Regions from separate parts of the Homo sapiens genome. Here region 2 is linked to region 1. Evidence: fine-mapped expression QTL. A gene starts in region 1. The other region holds a variant in brackets. All regions are shown on one strand. Distances are from middle to middle.

What was found. PIP is the estimated chance that this variant, and not a neighbour inherited with it, causes the effect. A credible set is the group of variants that fine-mapping cannot tell apart.
Region 2: its variant is the best candidate, but not a certain one, in a credible set for the expression of WASHC5-AS1 in nucleus accumbens (GTEx, PIP 0.87).

The regions. Positions count from the first base shown.
Region 1 is chr8:125,038,542-125,042,939 of GRCh38, forward strand. It overlaps WASHC5-AS1 (WASHC5 antisense RNA 1), which reads left to right and starts at 2,143. Exons shown (of 2, transcript NR_170219.1): 1 at 2,143-2,238. It overlaps WASHC5 (WASH complex subunit 5), which reads right to left. Exons shown (of 29, transcript NM_014846.4): 24 at 1,254-1,357; 25 at 289-418.
Region 2 is chr8:124,660,638-124,665,035 of GRCh38, forward strand. All of the region lies in intron 3 of MTSS1 (MTSS I-BAR domain containing 1), which reads right to left. Among named protein-coding and RNA genes, the nearest start is that of MTSS1, 66 kb to the right of the region's middle. The variant A/G (reference allele first, on the strand shown) is at 2,196.

The DNA.
Region 1 (4,398 bases):
ATGACTGAACGGCAAACCCCAGTGAAACCCAAAACTAATCTCTTACACGGAGGCAGCACCTTCCCCTTTGTCATGAGCTTTCACCAGCGCTATAGCACTTGATTCTCACAGACCTGAGCCAGGCGGGGAAAGTGTGATGATTGCTTAGAAAGGGCAGGGAACTGAATGGAATGAAGGCTCTGGGGTCTGAACCCAGGTTCCTCTGGTATTTCTGCACAGTAATCTGTTACCTGGGCCAAATACCATTCTGTACCCCCATCCCCGCCATTATATATTTTAATTACTCACCTTATTCAGTGGGTTGTGAATGCCAGCTGCCTCCAGATAGGCTGTGATTTCATATAAAAGTGTGTTATCTTCTTTGGGGTAAGGAAGTGAAGGGTCCTGATAGTGGGCTTCAATGTCTGCTAGGAGAGCCCTAAAGGAAGAAAAACCCTGGAGATAAACATTAGTGAGTAAATGAATTTATACAAGAGTTAATATAGGGCAGTGATGTAATCTTTTCAAGCCTCAGTTTCCTCATCTGTAAAATGAGAGCTTGATCTCGCTAATTCTCAACCATGCCTGTGATTGGTTTTAAGTGGAAAATTTGACCTAGAATTACTTCATCTTTTGGAATCAACCTCAATCAAATGCATTCACCATTCAAATTTTCATGTATTGACTGAACTGTTCTTAATACCTGCTTTGTCAAAAGCACTGACTTGGTGAGTGAGAAGCACAGATTATTTATCTGTAAGTAGGCAGCCTCAAATGACAGCAGGTTGCTGGTGAGGCGGAGGATATGAGTTCCCTCTAGGACAGGCCTCCATAACCACTCTTGGTAATCAACACACTTCCAACTGCCCTCTGGATGATGAGTGATCAGCCCTGTAAAAAGCCAGTTGCGGATTTTGGTAATAATTGCTTTCTAAAATCTGTGCAAGTATCTAGCAGTGTCTGGTGTGTCTCTCACTCGCTCTCTCTAATGAATTCATTTGTTCAGCAGACATGTATTGAATCATGTGATCAGTACCTGTCTGCTGAATACACGAATCCATTAGAGAGAGTGAGTGAGAGACAGAGATAAACGGAGGGACAATACTGAGGAAAGAGGCTCCGAAGACAGATTTGATTATCCGTGGCAAGGAAGCCTGTAAATTCAGACCTTCCACCCAAAAATAACTTAAAAGAGTAAGAACTGAAGAAACTGGGGTGCGTAGATAATAAACAATCCAAGCCCACGGATGGCTGTTTCAAACCCTGGCACTTACTTATTGAGATTCTCCAGAGCAGCTGCCAGATGTTTAGAATCAAACCGACAAGAATAATTTAATTCATTGGCAATCTGTTGTCTCAGAATCTGCATCTGCCCAACCTGTGCACAAGCAAGAGAAAGAACAGGTAGTGCATTCAAGCATTTCAGAGTGACAGTGAGGAGGTAAACACAAAGATGACAATTCTTCACTGGGCCTTCACATCACTCTACAGGAAAAAAAATAAGGATTTCCTGAACTGATCTCTTGGCTAAGACCAGCACTGGATCTAATGAAGCACCAGAGGCCCTTCAAGGAATGTCTGGATGGATTCCCATACCCCAACCTAAAAATACCCCAAAGTCTATGATTCACAAAGTGATCTATTAATGTTCAGTTGTTCATGTATCAAAGATGTCTTTTTTGAAGCTATATTTTTAACCTTTTGGAATAAGTGCTCCAAATTTAGTAGCTGCTGTGAGAAGTCTTACTTACTTCCTTTTATTTATCCTAAATGGAACTTTCTCAAGCTCTAGGAATGCCATTTCACACTAGTATTCTCAAATTGGGTGAATATTAAGTCTGTCCATGCCACTCAGGATTATAGGTTCTATAATTATCTGGATTACAAAATAATCTACATAAAATCTTTCACGAAAATTTTAACAATGATAGCCCCTTAATCCAGGGTTCTTAATTTTTTTTGTGTGTCTGATATGGTTTGGCTGTGCCCCCACCCAAATTTCATCTTGAATTGTAGTTCCCATAATCCCCATGTGTCATGGGAGGGACCCAGTGGGAGGTAATTGAATTATGGGGGTGGTTACCTCCATACTGTTCTCGTAATAGTGGATGAGTTCTCACGAGATCTGATGGTTTTATAAGAGGCTTTTCTCCTTTTGATTATATTTCTCTTTCCTGTTGCCATGTGAAGAAGGACATGTTTGCTTCCACTTCCACCATGGTTGTAAGTTTCCTGAGGCCTCCACAGCCATGCTGAACTGTGAGTCAATCGAACCTCTTTCCTTTATAAATTACCCAGTCTTGAGTATGTCTTTATTATGTGAGAATTGACTAATATAGCCTTGGACCCCTTTGGGAATCTGGTGAAGCCTATGGACACCATTTCAGAATAACGTTTTTGAATGTACAAAATAAAACATAGAGGGTAACAGTGGAAGCCAGTTGTAATGAAATATAATTAACCATTCAAAGAACAAATCTGTGATATAGAGTTATGCTAGGATGGTGTATTAACTACAGTACTTTAAAAGTAGCTATGAGCATAAATGATACTTGGAGATTATCTGCAATGGTTGGATGATAGGAAGCGATCTTTGGGTCAGGCTTGAGAGTTCAGTTTGCCCTCATAATGTTGTCTGCATCATAAGGTCAACAGCACACTCTAACTTTTTCTGCCTATAAATGTCTTCTTTTCTACTCGGACAAAGTATTCCTAAAAGACTGGCAAAGGGGAGTGAGGGAGGTGGGGAGAGGAGGGAAGACAGTATTATAATGCAAGCAGCAATAAGGTGGAAATAAATGCATTTCCTCTGAGTTGCTGGGGGCAGAGAAGAGTTAAGGAAAAGACAGGGGCTCACGCCTGCAATCCCAGCACTTTGGGAGGCCGAGGCAGGCTGATCGCTTGAGGCTAGGAGTTCGAGACCAAGCCTGGCCAAAATGGTAAAACTCTGTTTCTACTAAAAATAAAAAAATTAGCTGGGTATGGTGGTGGACACCTGTAATCCCAGATACTTGGAAGGCTGAGGTATGAGAAACACTTGAACCCAGGAGGTAGAGGTTGCAGTGAGCCAAGATTGTGCCACTGCACTCCAGCCCAGGCGACAGAGTGAGACTGTCTCAAAAAAAAAAGAAAAGGAGGGTGGCCTTCTCTAAGAATGAGCAAAAGTTACTTAGCTAAATGGAGCTTGTAATGGTCAAAAGTATTAAATGACCTCAGATGTATTATTTTTGACCACTATTCATACAAGACTATTACTCTATTTATGTGAAAAACGTCAATCCAAAAATGCTATTTATAAATAGGAAGTGTTTGAATTTATAGAGTAGCATTATTTAAAAATTAGAATGCAGCAAATCCAAGAAAATAGTAGGTTCTTTCAGGCCACATAAAAATGTCCCTGAAACCCTGTATCTGGCCCATATAATTCTTTGCTTAATTTTCTATGTGTAGTATACTCTGTGTCAAGGATCCTCTTGAAAATATCAATCTAGAACTGGAAATAGAAATAAAGTCAGTTTAATATAACTTGCTCTCGTTTACTGCACAATGAATCTTTGTTAGTGACATTTTCTATTTTTGGTACTCACGCACTTCAAGCTTTAATAAGCTGCTGAAGAGGCTAAGGAGCCTGGGATGGATGAGAAACTTATTCTACCTACTCATTTGCCTCTTTGGAGATATCTGGCTTATCACTCTTTCTCCAAGATTTTTCTAGAGTTGCACTATTGAGTACAGCAGCTCCTAGCGATGTGTGGCTATTTATATTTAAATTAATATGAAATAAAATTAAAAATTGCATTTCACTGTCCCACAACCCACATTTCATGAGCTCAATAGCTACACAGGGCTAGGAGCTGCTGTCATCATCGAATAGCACAGAACATTTCCATTGTTGTTCCAGATTATTAACACTGGCTCCGTGACTGTACGCACCCTAATTCAAGACAAAAAGACAAATTTGTCCTTTGGGGCTTTATTTAAAGATCACTGACTCGGTCACAGTCACGTGGCTGTTACTGAATTACTGGCAACTATAACCAATAGTTGGAATAGCTACTGGACTGAGAACCCTCCAGTAAGCAAGGGGAAAACCTTCCAGTTTCTTGGAAGAATCCCTGTAATCCCCCTAACGCCTCCTACAGAGTTGGGACTCACACCTGTCCAAACTCGGGTGATTCTTTATTCCTCCTAAAGGGTTTTCCAGCAATTAGAAACTTGGCCTGGGAAGCGCTTAATATCTGACAATCATGAGGCTAGGGGAAGGCAGACCCACATCACGAGAGGATATCTAGCAGAGCCATGGGCTCCTTGCCTTACCTGTTCTGTTTAATGATCCAAACAACAACAACAACAACAACCACTCACCAAAATTATGGGAAATATATTGTGAATTTGGCTAAGATACCAATGAGTGCTGTC
Region 2 (4,398 bases), 380 kb before region 1:
ACCAAATATGAGGCTCTGGCTTAGTGGAGGAATCAGAGCAGCCACAATATTTCTACGAAGCTTGTTCTAAATGCACATGATATCAGTGTTCTAAAATTCTGAATGTGGTACAGCTTTCATGCTAGTGCAGTATGGAAATGCCCCTCAACTCTCCCATGCCTCTCTTCCTCCTGGGTGCCCTGTGATACTCTGGTTCTCCTCTATACTAAGCAGCCTGGTCCAGTGTCTTCCCACAAGAGCAAAGGATGAGGGACTTGTGCCCCAAGGTCCGAGTGGAACACACATACACACCCTCCCACGCACACGTACACACACGCACAATTTGGTTCACACTGTATCCTCTGACAGTAGTCACCTCTTGGCCCTGAGGCCATCGTCAATCAACAGAGAAAATGGAACATTCAGTGAAAAGTAAAACCAGACCCAGCCACCAATAAGATGCCAGAGGGCAGTGGGATGAGTGTGATCATTAAAAAGTTTATCATTCAGAACCTTCATCCTTGGAGGAAAGGGTTTCAGTAACAACAGCTCACCAACACATGTAGGTTTTAAGAAATAATATTTATCGTCTTTTTCCAAAATGAAAGGATAACCTGAAAAGTAAAAACCTTAGGAAAATGGTCCCCATACACGCACTACCCAGAAACAACACCAATGTTAGACGTGTCCCTTTATTTTCTTCTAGGTTTTTTTTTTTTCTGTAAACTGATGAATTTTTACTAACAATTCATGCCTGCACAACCTGATTATTACAGGATCTAGACAAAGAGCAAGTTCATGAACCATGTTTTTCTGATGAAAACATGATCAAAGCACTAGCTCTTAGAAACAGAAGCTACGATTGTCTCAGGTGAACACAAAAGGAGCCCCGCAGCTGGGAAGATACGTGTGACCATCAGCTTGAAAACTGGACAGGCCACAGGGTCAGGTAGTGGAGTCCTAGCCACGCCAAAGGTGCAGACACTGCTGGGAGAGGCACGAAGCAGAGCCTCCTCAGCCCAGGTGAGGGGTGGTAAGGCTTCCTTCCTGGTCAGCCACCCGCTACAAACACCACCCCTCAAAGGCCGGGGCTAGGGAGGAACCTGGGAAGTCCAATCAGCACTGTCCCATAAAGGATTCCCCTCTTTCCCACAACTCACCATAGCTGCGACAGCCTGTTCACAGTTTGCTCAGCATACATTCAGGACCTGTCACACTGTACGGCCCACATCTGTCTGCATTTCTGACTCCCCTTAGACTATGATATTTGTAAAGTATGAGGGCCATGCTCCATTCATCTTCACGTCCTTTGTGTCTAGCAGATAGGAGAGGCTCAAGATGGCTCTCACCCATCCATGAACACCAAGGAAGTAGCCAGCTTCAGGTTCTTTTTAGATTAAAGAGAAAGGGAAATGATCCAGCCCAGTCTTGTCCCAAGCTCAGCTCTTTAGCCTGAAAGTTAATGGGAAAGGCAGGGGTGGCATGTTAGATCTATTGATCGCATGTGCTACAACGTTCCAGGGGCCCCTGCTTGGTGAGCTATGTTCAATTTTTGGGAAAGAGGACAACGTCAACGCTATAATTCCGGGTGCCTACCTCACACCACTCAGGAAGACCATAATCCAATGACAACTGAGAATGAATAGAAGCTGCCTATCTGGTTTCTTGGCATCCAACACAATTAGGGCCCCTCCGCCAGGGCTCTAGGAGCACCAAGAACAGTGATACGAATGTATTCCAGGGCCCGGCACATAGTAGATGTTCAATAAATACTTCTGAATAAAAAAAATACTGTATGCCATACACAGCACAGGACACCAAGAGAGGCCTCAGTCTCTGCCACCAGGAAGCTTTTCCATCTAACACAGTGGTTCTCTGTCTAGGGTGTCCATCACAATTACCTGGAGAGCCTTTCCCCAATACTCAGGATCCGGGCTCTGCCCCAGGCCTCCTGACGCACCCTCTGAAGACAGGGTCTAGACATACGTACTGTCAAACAGCTACCCAAGTGATTCTGAGGTAAACTCCCACATTGAAGAGCCCCTGCTCTAGAGAGTAAACGAAAGCTATTATTTATTATATTTGTAAATATTGGGGGAGGGGGTGGGAGAATAAGGCAGTAATGCTTTTTTATTTGTAAGTACCAAGACTTCCCTCCCTGCCCTCCCACGGGTTAAATTTTAAAGTCCTCCAAAATTCTTGGGAGGAAACAGACC[A/G]GGTACAATTGTCGTGGTATCCAAGGGGACCGTGTAATGTACCCTTGCAGTCAGATAAAGCTCACGGAAATCAAGGGCAACTACCTAATGATCCAAGGGACCGAGACGTGACCACGAGCCTTTCCTGATTGTTTTCTCCAGGTAACCAAGGGGCAGCTGCTCTCCTTTAGCCAGGTGAGAACACTGGATATCAGTATCTGGGCCCCACTCCCCACCCAACGCTGAAACCTCCCTCAGGGATGCTATGCCAACAGCTGCCTGGCTGGGTTCTGGAGCCGAAATGGGCAACTTGTACTTAGCCTGCACTCAGACACCTGCACACGTGTCTCTAGGAAAAGAGGGAGTGCCAGCAGCATGGCCAGACACTCCCTTTCGGGCTGTAAGTTTTTCCTGAGGCTGCCTGCTAAACCTCATGCTAAGACAGACAGACAGACAGACTGACAGACACACACGTCCACAGCCTTGGAGCCCCTTTGCTCAAGGAGGCTTCCCATAGACACCTTGGCAAAGACCTACAAATGAAGCCAAGGACACGTGTCCTCTGAAGGGGAGGAAAACCACCAACCCCTGTGCTCACTCGGCCCTCCCATCCCCCTTCCTCAAATCGGAAGCCTCTGAGGCCAGTTAGGAAACCCAGCTTTGGCATGCATCATCAGCCCAGAACCCCCACCCGCCCAATCCATGCTCCCACCAAGGTCAAGAGTAGAACCGTCCCACCTCCCCTTTCTCCCCACACTCTTTAAAGCAATAGATTCTGTAAATTTTCCTTTTCCCTTTCTTGGCTCCCCTGCATATGTGGCTCCTTATTCCTGAGGATACTTAGAAAAGCCATCCTCCTCCCACCTCCTCTGCAGACCCTCCAAATATCAGCTTTCGATATTTTGCCCCTCTGTCCATTCCCGTGTCCTTTTGTAAATGGCCTCCTACAGGAAAAGCACAGTGAATACAAAGATGAGTAAGACGTGGTCCCATTCCTCAAGGAGGGCAGAGACACACACATAGACAGAAAGTTAGGACAGGAAACGCCATGACAGAGAGAAGCCTAGGGCATCACGGAGCACAGAGAGGAGCGCAGATCACAGGGGCTCCTCAGGAGATGACACCTCAGTTCGAGTCTAAAAACCCGGGATGGACTGGTGCTGGCCCAGTGGTGTCTGCAGACAAAGGAGAAATAAAGCAAAGCACAGCACAGAAGTAACCTGTGCCCAGGTCGGTGAGAAGACACTTCAGCAGGAGAAGCAGGTGAGGTCCAGGTGGGGAACCCCAGGAGGGAGCAGCTGGAAGCCAGCAGGCAGAAGCCAGCGCCTGCAGGGCTACCCCCTCTCCAGTCCTTGGAGGTGCCACCCATGGTTCTGCTGGGCTGTTCCCAGGGGTGGTTTCATGACTTAGAACCACAGGCGTAAGTTCAACCTGTCATCATGGGGCAGCCAAGCCAATGGCCCTAATTAAAGTCTCCTGAGACACAGGCGTGGCTATCTCCTTCCAGCGAGGCCCGTCTCTAGATAAATGCTCCTCTACCACAGTGCCAGAGGCTGCTTCTCCAAGTAGCTTCCTACTGGCCTTTAATTTGGTAGCACCCAAGCATTCTAGTCTGAACCCAACCATTTCAGGTTGCAAAATGTCTCTTTAATCGTTGGGAGTATGTAGACCAGAGTTTAGGAGCACACAAGATTAGAAGCCACACTCTAAAATTGAGCCCTTCATTTCCCCTTAGGTTTTAAATAGGCATATGACCACTTGGTCATATTATACCTAAAAGCATACACACTCACAGCCTCTGGTAACATAGAATTGCAGGCAACAGGGCTCTTGTGTGTCAGGAGACCCCTCTACTCTAAAATAGCAAAATCCGCAACGAGAGCACTTGACTAGTAGCTTTTGCTTACATCAAGTCATAGTTGCTTCAGCCTCCAGGCCTGTTTCCTTCTACACAAACACTACCACCGTCACCACCACCATCCTCATCATCAAATACAGTGAGCAACTGCTACACATCTGGCACTGTTCACAGTAACACTAGGAAGTAGACTATTCTATTTCATTGTTTCTAAGACCAATCCTAGAATCCATTTTACAGTTCATTCTTTCCCCCCGACATGTTAACAACTCTGAAAGGCATTTCATATTTTAGTTGGCAGGATTTTTTTTTTCCTTAGTGCTACATAAACTAAAGGTACAACTAAATTGATAGTTCTTGGATTTG